Regions from separate parts of the Homo sapiens genome. Here region 2 is linked to region 1. Evidence: fine-mapped expression QTL. A gene starts in region 1. The other region holds a variant in brackets. All regions are shown on one strand. Distances are from middle to middle. Region 1 holds the start of FAM230C (family with sequence similarity 230 member C). Region 2 overlaps FAM230C (family with sequence similarity 230 member C).

Region 1 (5,304 bases):
ACTAAATAATACAGAAATAATTCACAAAACTTGCAACCATAAAGCTCTTATAAACACAACCTCGAGTGTATGTATATTTAGGGAAACTTGGATGTATGCTCACGGTTTGCAAAAAGTAACAAAAATACAAGGGAAAAATCACTGACAATGGACTGCTTTGGCAGTGATTTTGTTTTTTCTTGATTAGTAAACAATAGCACACTAACCAAGAAATTACATGTGGGACCGCATCAAACTGAAGAATTTGTGCCCAAAAAAGGAAAGAAACAACGAACAAAATGAAAAGGCATACTAAAACTTATAAGAAAAGTTTGGGCAAACATACAGTGGATAACAGGTTACTTTTGAAAAGGCACAAGCCAGTAACACTAACGGCTGGCAAAAAAACAAAACAACAGAGAAATAACCAGACCAAAATTGGGCAAATAACCTGAGTAGATATTTGTGCAAAGAAGACAGAAAACAGATTCAACATTTATAAAAACGTGGTTAACATTACTACTCATGAGAAAAATGTAGATCAAAACCACTCTCAGATCTTATCTCACTCCAACTAGAATGAACATCACAAAAAGATTAAAATATTTAAAAATAAAATTCCTGGTATGAATTTCCAGAAAGGGGGACTGTTTGTGGAAATGTAAATTGGTATTAACACTATAAAAAACAGTTGGGGGTCCTGCAAACAATAGAAAAAAAAAAAGGAAATACCATACCATCTAGCAGTCCCACTACTGGCTATATATTCAACCTACCTGTTCACCCACAGATAAAGAGATCAAGAAACTCTCATATACATACACTGGGGAATATTCTTCGGCTATCAGAATAATCAAACAGTGTCATTTAGAGCAACCCAGATGAACCTGGAAAACATTATGATAAATGTGATGAGCTAGGCCTAGAAAGACAAACACTGCATGATACCACTCATGTGAAATCTTAAGATGTTTATCTTAAAGAAGTAGAAAGCACAATATTGGTTACCAGAGTCTGGGAGACAGAAGGGGAATGGAGAAGGATTGGTTATGGAAACAAAGTTATCTTAACATTAAAAGAATAAATCTGAGTGTTCTCCTCAGCCTGGTGACTGGACTTAACCGTATTACATTTTTCTAAAGAGCAAGGAGAATTTTGAATGTTCTCTTTACACAAAAATAATACCTGTATGAGGGAATAGAGATCCTAAGTACCCTGATTTGATCATTACCCAATTTATATGTATAAAAATGTACCCCTAATTATGGCCCTTTATGTTGTAAAAAAATTAACAGAAATAAATACATAGTGCTAAAAATCACAGGGAACCACAAAAGCAATGAATATCTAAAGGAATCCTGAGAAATACAATCAAAGTGAGAACCCACAATCCTTGATATCAAATTAAATTGCCAAGTTGTAGTTATGCAGTAGATATATGGTACTTGCATAAAAAGAAATACCTAGAACTATGGACAAAAACAGGGAGGACAAAAACAACACAAATATGGACACAGTCAACTGACTTTGATAAAGAACACCACAATGTGGAAGGCAGAGTCTGATCAATGAATAGCTTTGAGAAAAATGATATCCGGATGCAAAAGCGAGAAACAGGACCCTTATTTTACACGATGTATGAAAATCAACCGCCCCCCCCATCAACTGAAGGCCAAAACAAAATACCATAAACCACAAAATGTTTTTTAAAAAATTACTGTGTTTACTTAAGTAAAACACAGGTTGAGCATATATTTTGGGTCACTTGAATCTCTGTTAACCTTTGCAAAGAGGAAAAGAAACAAACACCCTGGAAGAAAAACCTCACTGACAATTAAATGCTTTGTTACTGATGCATATTTTCTAATATGGGTGACCATTATGACACGCATAAAACGCAAAAAAAAAAAAAATATGGGACTACATCAACGTGAAAAGTTTCTGCATGGCAAAGAAAACTACTTTCCAAATAAAAAAGCATCCCATAGATTATGCAAAAATTTCAGGCAATCATGTAATTCACGAGGAGTTGTCAACTAACGTGTACACAAAAAAGAGTACAAAGTAGAAAAAGAATCCAATCTAATATTTCGCAAATAACCTAAAGAGACAATTCTGCACAGATATAAAATCGAACAACAGATAAGAGATAAGGTCCTCGAAATTAACTATTCATTAGAATACTGTAATTCAAAACCACACGCAGATAGTCTCACACTTATTGAATATTCCTAGAAAAATTTTTTAAAAATAGGAGGGTCTGGGAGCCGTGGCTCACGTCTGTAATCCCAGCACTTTGGGAAGCCAAGGCGGGTGGATCACCTGAGGTCACGAGTTTCAGACCAGCCTGACAAATATCGTGAAACCCCGTCTCTACTAAACATAAAAATACAAAAATTAGCCGGGCGTGGTGGCGGGCGCCTGTAGTCCCAGCTACACAGGAGGCTGAGACAGGAGAATTGCTTGAAACCGGGAGGTGGAGGTTGCAGTGAGCCGAGATGGCGCCACTGCCCTCCAGCCTTGGAGACAGAGCGAGACTCCGTCTCGAAATAACAAAAACAAAAAAAATTGGAATGGGGGTTTGGTTTTGGAGAAACGGGAACTCATACACTGTAGGTGGAAATGAAAATTAGGGTACACACCATGGAAAACAGTTAAATAGCTGGAAACTCCTCAAAGAATTGAAACTACAGATGTCCCCTGCTCTAGCGAGGTCTCTTTCTAAAGGTCCTGAGGCATAAAAAATAACCCTAGACCCCAGCTCAGAGGCCCGTGGGGCTCGGAGGGACCCAGTCCAGCGCTTCACCGCCGGCTCTGGGCCAGGGCGCTCCTATAGGCTGGACGTGGGTCGGACCGGGGCATAGCCTTCCCGGCGGGGGTGTGGACGCTGCAGAGGCCAGGATCCCACAACCGCCCCAACGCTGACGACTCGGGCCCAGATGCCCACTTAGAAGTCAGGGCCCGAAAGCAGGGAGCGGCCGGGAAGGAGTAGGGAGACCCAGAGGGTTCCAGGTGGGGTTCATCCCCCTCCACTTACCGCCGAGGCCTGCCACCTCCTCCACCAACAAACGGAAGCCACCACATCTTCTCCGAGACTCGCTCTGACCACGCCGCCGATGCTGCCCGGGCCTCGCACGAAGCGCAGTCTCGGCTTCCCTCGGGGCCTGCATGCTGGCAGCGTCCCTGGCGCCAGGCTGAAGCACCACCCCCTCTTAAAGGGGCCGCGGCTGGGACTGGGCAGAAGCAGCTTCGGGTTGCACAGGCTGAGCGTCTGCCCAGCCCCAGGGGTGGAAGAAAGGCCCCCAGTCTGTCATCCTCCCGGGCTCTAGGGCCCTAGAGGTCGCAGAAGCCCCTCCTGTGACCCCAGCCCCTAAATCGGCTCCCTTTGCCTGAGGAGCGCCCGGGACCTGCCCCTGCCCTCCTCGGGACCTCAGCTTCACCATCCTCAAAGAAAGCGGCCTGGCTGGAGCTCTGGGGTCCCTCAAGCTCGGCGCCTCAGGATCCAGGGTGGGCTCCCCTGCCCCTCTGCAGAGGGGGCCCAATAGCCACGGAAAGCTGGGGGCTGGAGGGACAGTCCCGAGGGCAGCAGGGCGTCCTTGGCCTCACCGTCTACATTCGTCCTGTGGGAGCCCGGGGGCGTCGCTAGGGCCCAGACTCCTGCGGCCTCACCAGGGCTGCCTGGGTCACCGGGCTCCCCAGGAGGCAGGGAGGGACCCTGGGGTCCAGCGCTGCCCCCACCTCAACTCCATTCTGCGTCAGCATCCGCGAGGGGATCCTGTGGACTGGACCCAGACCCACTCCTTCCCGGGGAGCGGGACCCGCATCGGTCTCTGTGACACCCACGGGAGGGGCCGTGCTGACCTCTCCCGGGGATCTGGGGGCGAGGTGGGGGAATCTCGGCCACCTCTTGAAGCTCGCTGAGCCCCCCACCCCAGAGAGCGCTCAGGAGCAAAGGAAAGGACGGAGAGCCCACACATTTTCTATCTTTCATTTCCGTTTTTTCTTTTTTCCCCCCTCCAAAATGAAAGACGTGTGTAGCTTTGTCCCCTGTACACCATCCATTCCCCATGGCCGCTGTGCGGATCCAGCCCGCTGGTTGCCTCTAGGGTCCTGGGCGCCCGGCGGTCCGCATGCAGCCCGGGGCCTGCCCAGGTGAGGTCTGCGGCCGCCACAGCGCTGAGGTCCCGCCTGGCCGGGGCGCACGGGCCGCTGGGGATGCTGGCTGCGAGGCTCCGGGGAGGTGGAGCGGGAGGTTGTCCCAGGCCCTGGCTGCAGAGCTCTTGATGTCACGCCTGACACCCTCCATCCACCGCCTCGGGGCAGCGCTTCAGAGCCCCGGCAGAGGCAAGAAGTCGATCACTTTGTTCTTCATTCGTTGGAAAAATGGAAAAGCACATTATAATCCCTGGAACAACCACTTCAGAGAAAGAGCAAAAAATTAAAATAGGATTGTAAATGACACACTGAAATAAGTTGATTTTAAAAATGGTAGTCAATGGAAAAACAGGATCAGAAGACAGGAGAGACAGGGAAAACAAATAAGTTATCTGACTGAAACAGAATTAGAAACTAACAACAGTAAGAAATATTGGACATCTGAAAATATGTGAAAATTTAACAACCCACCTCTAAATCATTGGATCAAAAAAAATCACAAGATAAATTGGAAAATATTTTGAGCTGCACTCCAGTTTGGGTAACAGACTGAGACCTTGTTTCTAAGAAAACAAAACAAACTTCAAAAAGCTATAAAATTAAATGCCAATTTTCCCCCTTACCCAAACTCTCCGTGGCTCTCCTTTGCCCTCAGAGTCAAGCCCATGCTTCTCACTGTGGGCTCCAGGACCTAGGTGGCCTGACCAGTGCACACCCTATCACGATCTCCTCCTCTGCCCACTTGCTCACGCTGTCCAGTCACACACACTATTTTTGCAAATGCCAAGCTCCTGATCACCGCTGGGCCTTTGCCACTGCAGTTCCGCCTGCCAGGACCAGTCTTTCCCTAGACCTTCCCATTCCTGCCTCTTCCTGGCTTGGCTGCCTCTTTCTGGTGCTTCAGGTCTCAGATCAAATGTCACCTCTTCAGAGAGGACTTCATTGAAATCTCTGCCTAACACAGCCCGTATCAAGGTCAACACTTTTCTTTTTAGACTTAGGTTTTGATATAAAGAAGTTTCATAAAAATGACTTGGGCAGCTATCATCTGTTTAAAAGGTCTGACTTTGCTGAAATAATGTGGGCTTTCCTGTTCTTTGAGTTTTGATAAAACAACTGTAAAACCATCTGCCTTTTTAAAAAAAATTGAGATTGATGTATACTTTCTGT
Region 2 (5,378 bases), 27 kb before region 1:
GAATCTATTGCAATAATCACATTTTTTTCCATTAAACTCTTGAGGTAGCTAATTTTATTTATTGCATTTTCAATGTTAATCTACTATTTCATATTTTGAGATTAACTCACATTAGTCAGAATTTACAGTATTTTAAAATATCACAGAATTTAATTTACCTTATCTGGTTTTGGTTTCAAGACTATACTAGCCATTTCATTTAATTGTACATGTAGGGTATTCTAATTTATGGAAAACTATTACATCTTCCTTGATTTTTTTTTTTTTTTAGAAATTACTTCTAGGGATCTATATGGTAGAGTCCATGGAGAATTGTTTTAATTCTACATTCATGTCTTCAGTGGGTATACGATTGGTCATATTGGTCATAGTTTTCTGCTCGGATTTCAATAAGAAACTTGTGGAAGAACCTGAAGGGTGGGATCTTTGAGGGAGCCTAAGACGGAGCAAGACAAGCTAAGAAGGAGGGCAGTGCCACAGCAGAACTGTTATTGATGCCCCCTCACCTAGATTGCAGAAGAGACATCCAGCTGTAGACACTGAGGTGCAGGAAAACAATGGAGCACCATCAGAGAAAGCAGTGCCCAGGAACAAGGAGGCACTGATGGTGGCAAGGGGCAAAGACAGCTACCACGAGGCTGTTCACATGAGGGTCTCAGGCTGCATAGACACCCACACCAGCTGAGGGGTCCTGGTTTTCATAAAGTGTGTGGCTCAGCCAGGCCACCAACAAGAAGTTCACAAACAGTAGTAATACGACACTTTCCAAAGACCTTACTTGAGTAACATGGTGATCCTCACAAATTTCCAATCAGGATGGTCGCACGGTTCCTCCTGCTTTAGGACTCAGAGCCTGCCCATGGTCACAGTGGGTAGGTGCAGACTCTGAAGATGCCCTTTGGTCAGAGACCCCGCTGAACTCTGTCTAATGAGGACCTCTGTCCTGTCTGCTGACCACCGGTCAGAGGTGCAGGCTGCACTGGGGAGTAAGAATGCCACCTTCTCAATGTTGGGAAAACTCCCTGCCAGAACTGAGAATGGCCCTTTCTAAGCAGAAGACAAGCTCAGACTAAAGAAGGAGGCCGACCACATCAGGTTGGCAGATTGCCAAAGATTCACTCAGGGAGAGCCCACATCCTGGGCCATCTTGGGTGGTGGCAAGATGAGGTAGATGACTGCTTTTGCAACACATACCTGACAACAAAAAATCAACAACTGTAAAAGAGCCACAAAATCCCCAAATATTTGCAAATTAGCAATGCAGTTTTAAATAACTCATGGGTTAAAGAAGAAGTCTCAATAGAAAATTAAAAATACTTTTAACTACATTAAAAGAAAATGTGACTTGGCAAGATTTCTGGATGTAGCAAAAGCAGTCCTTAGAGGGAAATCTATAGCATTGGATGTAATATACTAAAAATCACAAGATCTAAAATCAGTAATATCATGTTTCAATTAGGGAACTGTAGAAAATAGAGGAATGCAATGGAAAGCAAGTAAAAGTAATAAACAACATCACAGAAATCAATAAAATTAAAACACTGAAATCATCAGAAAATCAATAAAACCAAAAGCTGGTTCTTTGATATGCTCATTACAATGAATGAATTGATATGCAGGCTAACCAAGAAAAAGAAGATAACACAAATGACCAATTTCAGAAATAAAAGAGGAGCCATCTCTACTGAACTGTTAGGCATTAAAAGGAATATTATGAACAGTTCTATGACCGCAGTTTGATAACCTCAGTGAAATTTATCAATTCCTTGAAAGGCAATCTTCCCAAGGTCACGCTAGAATCCTAATGTGAATAAACTTATGTCTATTAAATAAGTTGAATTCACATTAAGAGCATTCCGAAAAAGAAAGCACCAGGCCCAGATGGTTTCTCTCATGAAATCTACCGAATTCTTCAACAGGCGAATAAAAAGACAAAAATTCATTTAATGCAATATTATTTGGTGATTTAATGTGCCATTTTTTGCCATTAAGGCATAAAAAAGACATGAAAGCAGCTAAAGCGTACATCAATTTAGTGCAATAAATTCATCTGAAAAAACTACATAATATATGATTCCAACTATACGACATTCTGGAAAAGGCAAAGTTGAAGCGATAGTAAAAATGTTAATAGTTGCCATGGTTTCTGGAGAAAGAGGACAGAGATTAATGAGAAGAGAGGATTTTTAGGGAAGTGAACATTTTCTTTATGAGACCATAAGGGTGAACATAATGTTTTAAATATTTCAAAATTCATATATATGTATAACAGAAAGAATGAACATTATGCAAATGTAGACTTTAGATAATAATGTATCAATATTTTCTCATTATTCTAGCAAATGTACCACAGTAATGTAAGATGTTACTAATAGGTGAAATTAGGAAGTGAGGATGAGGAGACAGAATAATATGGGAACTTCGTGTATTATATACTCAATTTTTATTTATTTATTTATTTATTTATTTATTTATTTATTTTGAGATGGAGTTTCACTCTTGTCACCCAGGCTGGAGTGCAATGGCATGATCTTGGCTCACTGCAACCTCTGCCTCCCGGGTTCAAGCGATTCTCCTGCCTCAGCCTCCTGAGTAGCTGGGATTACAGGCGCCTGCCACCATACCGGGCTAATTTTTTTGTATTTTTAGTAGAGATGGGGTTTCACCATGTTGGCCAGGCTGGTCTCCAACTCCTGACCTCAGATGATCCGCCTGCCTTGGCCTCCTAAAGTGCTGGGTTTATAAGCGTGAGCCACCACGCCTGGCCATATGCTCAGTTTTTATGTCAATTTAAAACTCTCTAAAGAAATATATTAATTGAAAAATAATAATATAGCACCACTCTTTCAGGGAGATCTATGCTTATGTTTAACAACCAGGTAAGTTCTAGACATTAGCTTGAAACATTGTCTATCATTAAACATGAACCACAATTGACTTTTAAGTAGATATTTACTTTTGTGGTTGTAGCAATATTTACTGACCAGGCAAATTAGAATCCTGACACATTAAAAAATATGGCTTAGTCTCTTCATAGTTTCCTCTTACATATGGGACACTGAATACTCCCCGCAATTGCAATTCTTGAAGCAACTTAATTAATGAACTTCCACAGTACCTTCTTGTGGGTACATCTTCTTCTTTACCGGGGAGCCATGAGGTCTCCGACACTGGTTGGTGTGCACAGCATATCTTCTTGTATTCTCTATCAGAGAAGATGCTGGTTAACGCATTTACAATAGATAGGGCTGTTGACATCTTGCTGAC[T/C]GAAGACCAGAGGGAAAACAGTGATAATCTGTTCTAAGTTTAAACTTATGATGTTTTTCTTTACAGGCTTCCAAGCAGAGCCCACTGAATCAAAGTTGGGTTTCAGGAAGATCACGGAGTTCAGTGAGCACTCAACACCTCTATCAGACAGACTGTGTGGGCAGTGCCTTCCTGGAGAGGAGAACACAGCAGGATGACTGTGAGTGCAGGGCTGGTGCAGAGTGGGGGCCCGGATTCAAATTCCACTAAGCCATGTGGACCTAGAAATCTCATGTCCTCCCTCTGCCCTCAGTTCTCTGCACTGTCATAATGTAATTTTAGCAATACTTTTTAGGCCCTATTTAGGCCCTACTTCTTAGTATCACAGTACGGGGCTAAAAAATCACTAAATACAGGAAAACCTTAGAGAGGACTGGTACTTCAGTAATGTTCTCTAAGTGTTTACTACATGCCAGGAGGAATAAGCTGGACACTTAGCAGTGGTGGAATATGGAGGGGGAACTTGGATGGCTCCGGGGCAGTGGAGCATGCTTTCCTGTTCAGCTTTTCCGTGGGCATGATGCCTTATGGTTTATGGAGAACATCAGCCCTGCAGGGGGTGCAGAGGAGGGGCTGTGGCTGAGATTTTACACTTGAGGGTGCTGACATTCAGAGATGATAAGTGACGAGCAGAACCTCAACCCCGCTGAGTGAAGGACCTGAGATGGGAAATGTATTTGGTTCCCTAGAGAGAGAGTTTCCTGAAAAACTGCCACCTCTTCATCACGCCCTGTGCCAGAGACCCAAGAGGCCCTTCACTGTCTTTCCCCAGTCCTCCTAGCCCAAGGTGTGTGGGTGGACAAAGGTGATGCTCTGGAGGAAATGCCTGAGATAAGGACAGGTCCTTAATGATAAAGAATTCTCCTTCCTCTTTCAGATCCTTGACTTCCCCAGTATGACAGCTTAAAGGCTGTCATCTCTGTGGCCTGCCTCCCCTTTCCCTTCACCCTGCCAGCTGCCTCTCAGTGACTGTCTCCTCCAGTGACTACACTGAGGGACCAGGGACTGCTTGCCTCCCGAGGCTGCTCAGACCTTCTGACACTGCAAAATGATTGTCAAAAGATGGGTCTGCAAAGAGTAACTTCGCTTCCAATGATCAAACCTGAATATGCAAGCTACTGTGAATTAACTGGAAAAGTGGCCATGTGGGCTGGTGCTTTGGTGATTTAATGAATTAAGTCTGCAACCCCCACTGCCTCCTTGACTATTGATCAGAGCTACCTGCAATAAGGTCTGGCTAAGAATGGGCAGTGGTTGCACCAGCTCTGGGTAAAATTTGACCTAAAATGACCAGTCTCATTCACTAACCTCAACATAGTCTTATGGGTTCAATGGACCTGTCCAATCCTTTGCTCTGTTCTCTCCATCACCTTCCTGTGTAATTTTCCTCCACCACACACATAATAGAAACATGGCACAGGGTAGCTAATCACCTCTTTTATCCCCCACTTCAGGCTCACACATAAGTTTATAGTAAAAGCCTTTTCAAATGACTGCTTTAACTGCTGCTACAGCATGTGTCATCAGTTGAATGGAATCTGTCATGTGACTTTAAGCAACCCTTTGTTGAGAGACAAGATTCAATACTAGGGACAGTATTCTAGTGTACTACATCATTGATTTTATGTTATGAAGATCATCATTTATTGAAAATGTATAAACAAAGCGCAGCCTTACTCTTTAATGCTGTGTGTGTAAATCCACTGAGTGTGCTGACCCCCACGCTTGTACCCACCTGCTAACACAGAAAGGGTCCACTCAGAAGGGAGGCACAGCTCCAGCACTGAGGCTGTCCACACCAGCTTCACAAGAGGGTTGCCACAAGGACGACAGATACCCGGATAACAACCAAATGGTAATTTGAGTACTTAATGGTCATGATCCCTAATGTGTGTAGCTCAGAGGGCTTGTGGTGATAACTCCATCAAGACTCTAAAGCGTCTCCCCAATTCTTACTGGACTTGATCCATGTCTTGAGGAGACCCAGCTATGACACGCAGGCACCACGTTGTCCTACTTAGTGCCTCCCTTAGTGTTTCAGAACCTGTGATTTGATCAGAAACATGGGCTTT

Evidence for each region.
Region 2: its variant is fine-mapped to the expression of FAM230C in testis (GTEx, PIP above 0.99).

The regions. Positions count from the first base shown.
Region 1 is chr13:18,193,124-18,198,427 of GRCh38, reverse strand. FAM230C (family with sequence similarity 230 member C) reads right to left here and starts at 3,131. Exons shown (of 8, transcript NR_027278.1): 1 at 3,017-3,131. It also overlaps the pseudogene LOC124903223.
Region 2 is chr13:18,220,322-18,225,699 of GRCh38, reverse strand. It overlaps FAM230C (family with sequence similarity 230 member C), which reads right to left. Exons shown (of 8, transcript NR_027278.1): 4 at 3,119-3,205. Among named protein-coding and RNA genes, the nearest start is that of FAM230C, 28 kb to the right of the region's middle. The variant T/C (reference allele first, on the strand shown) is at 3,268.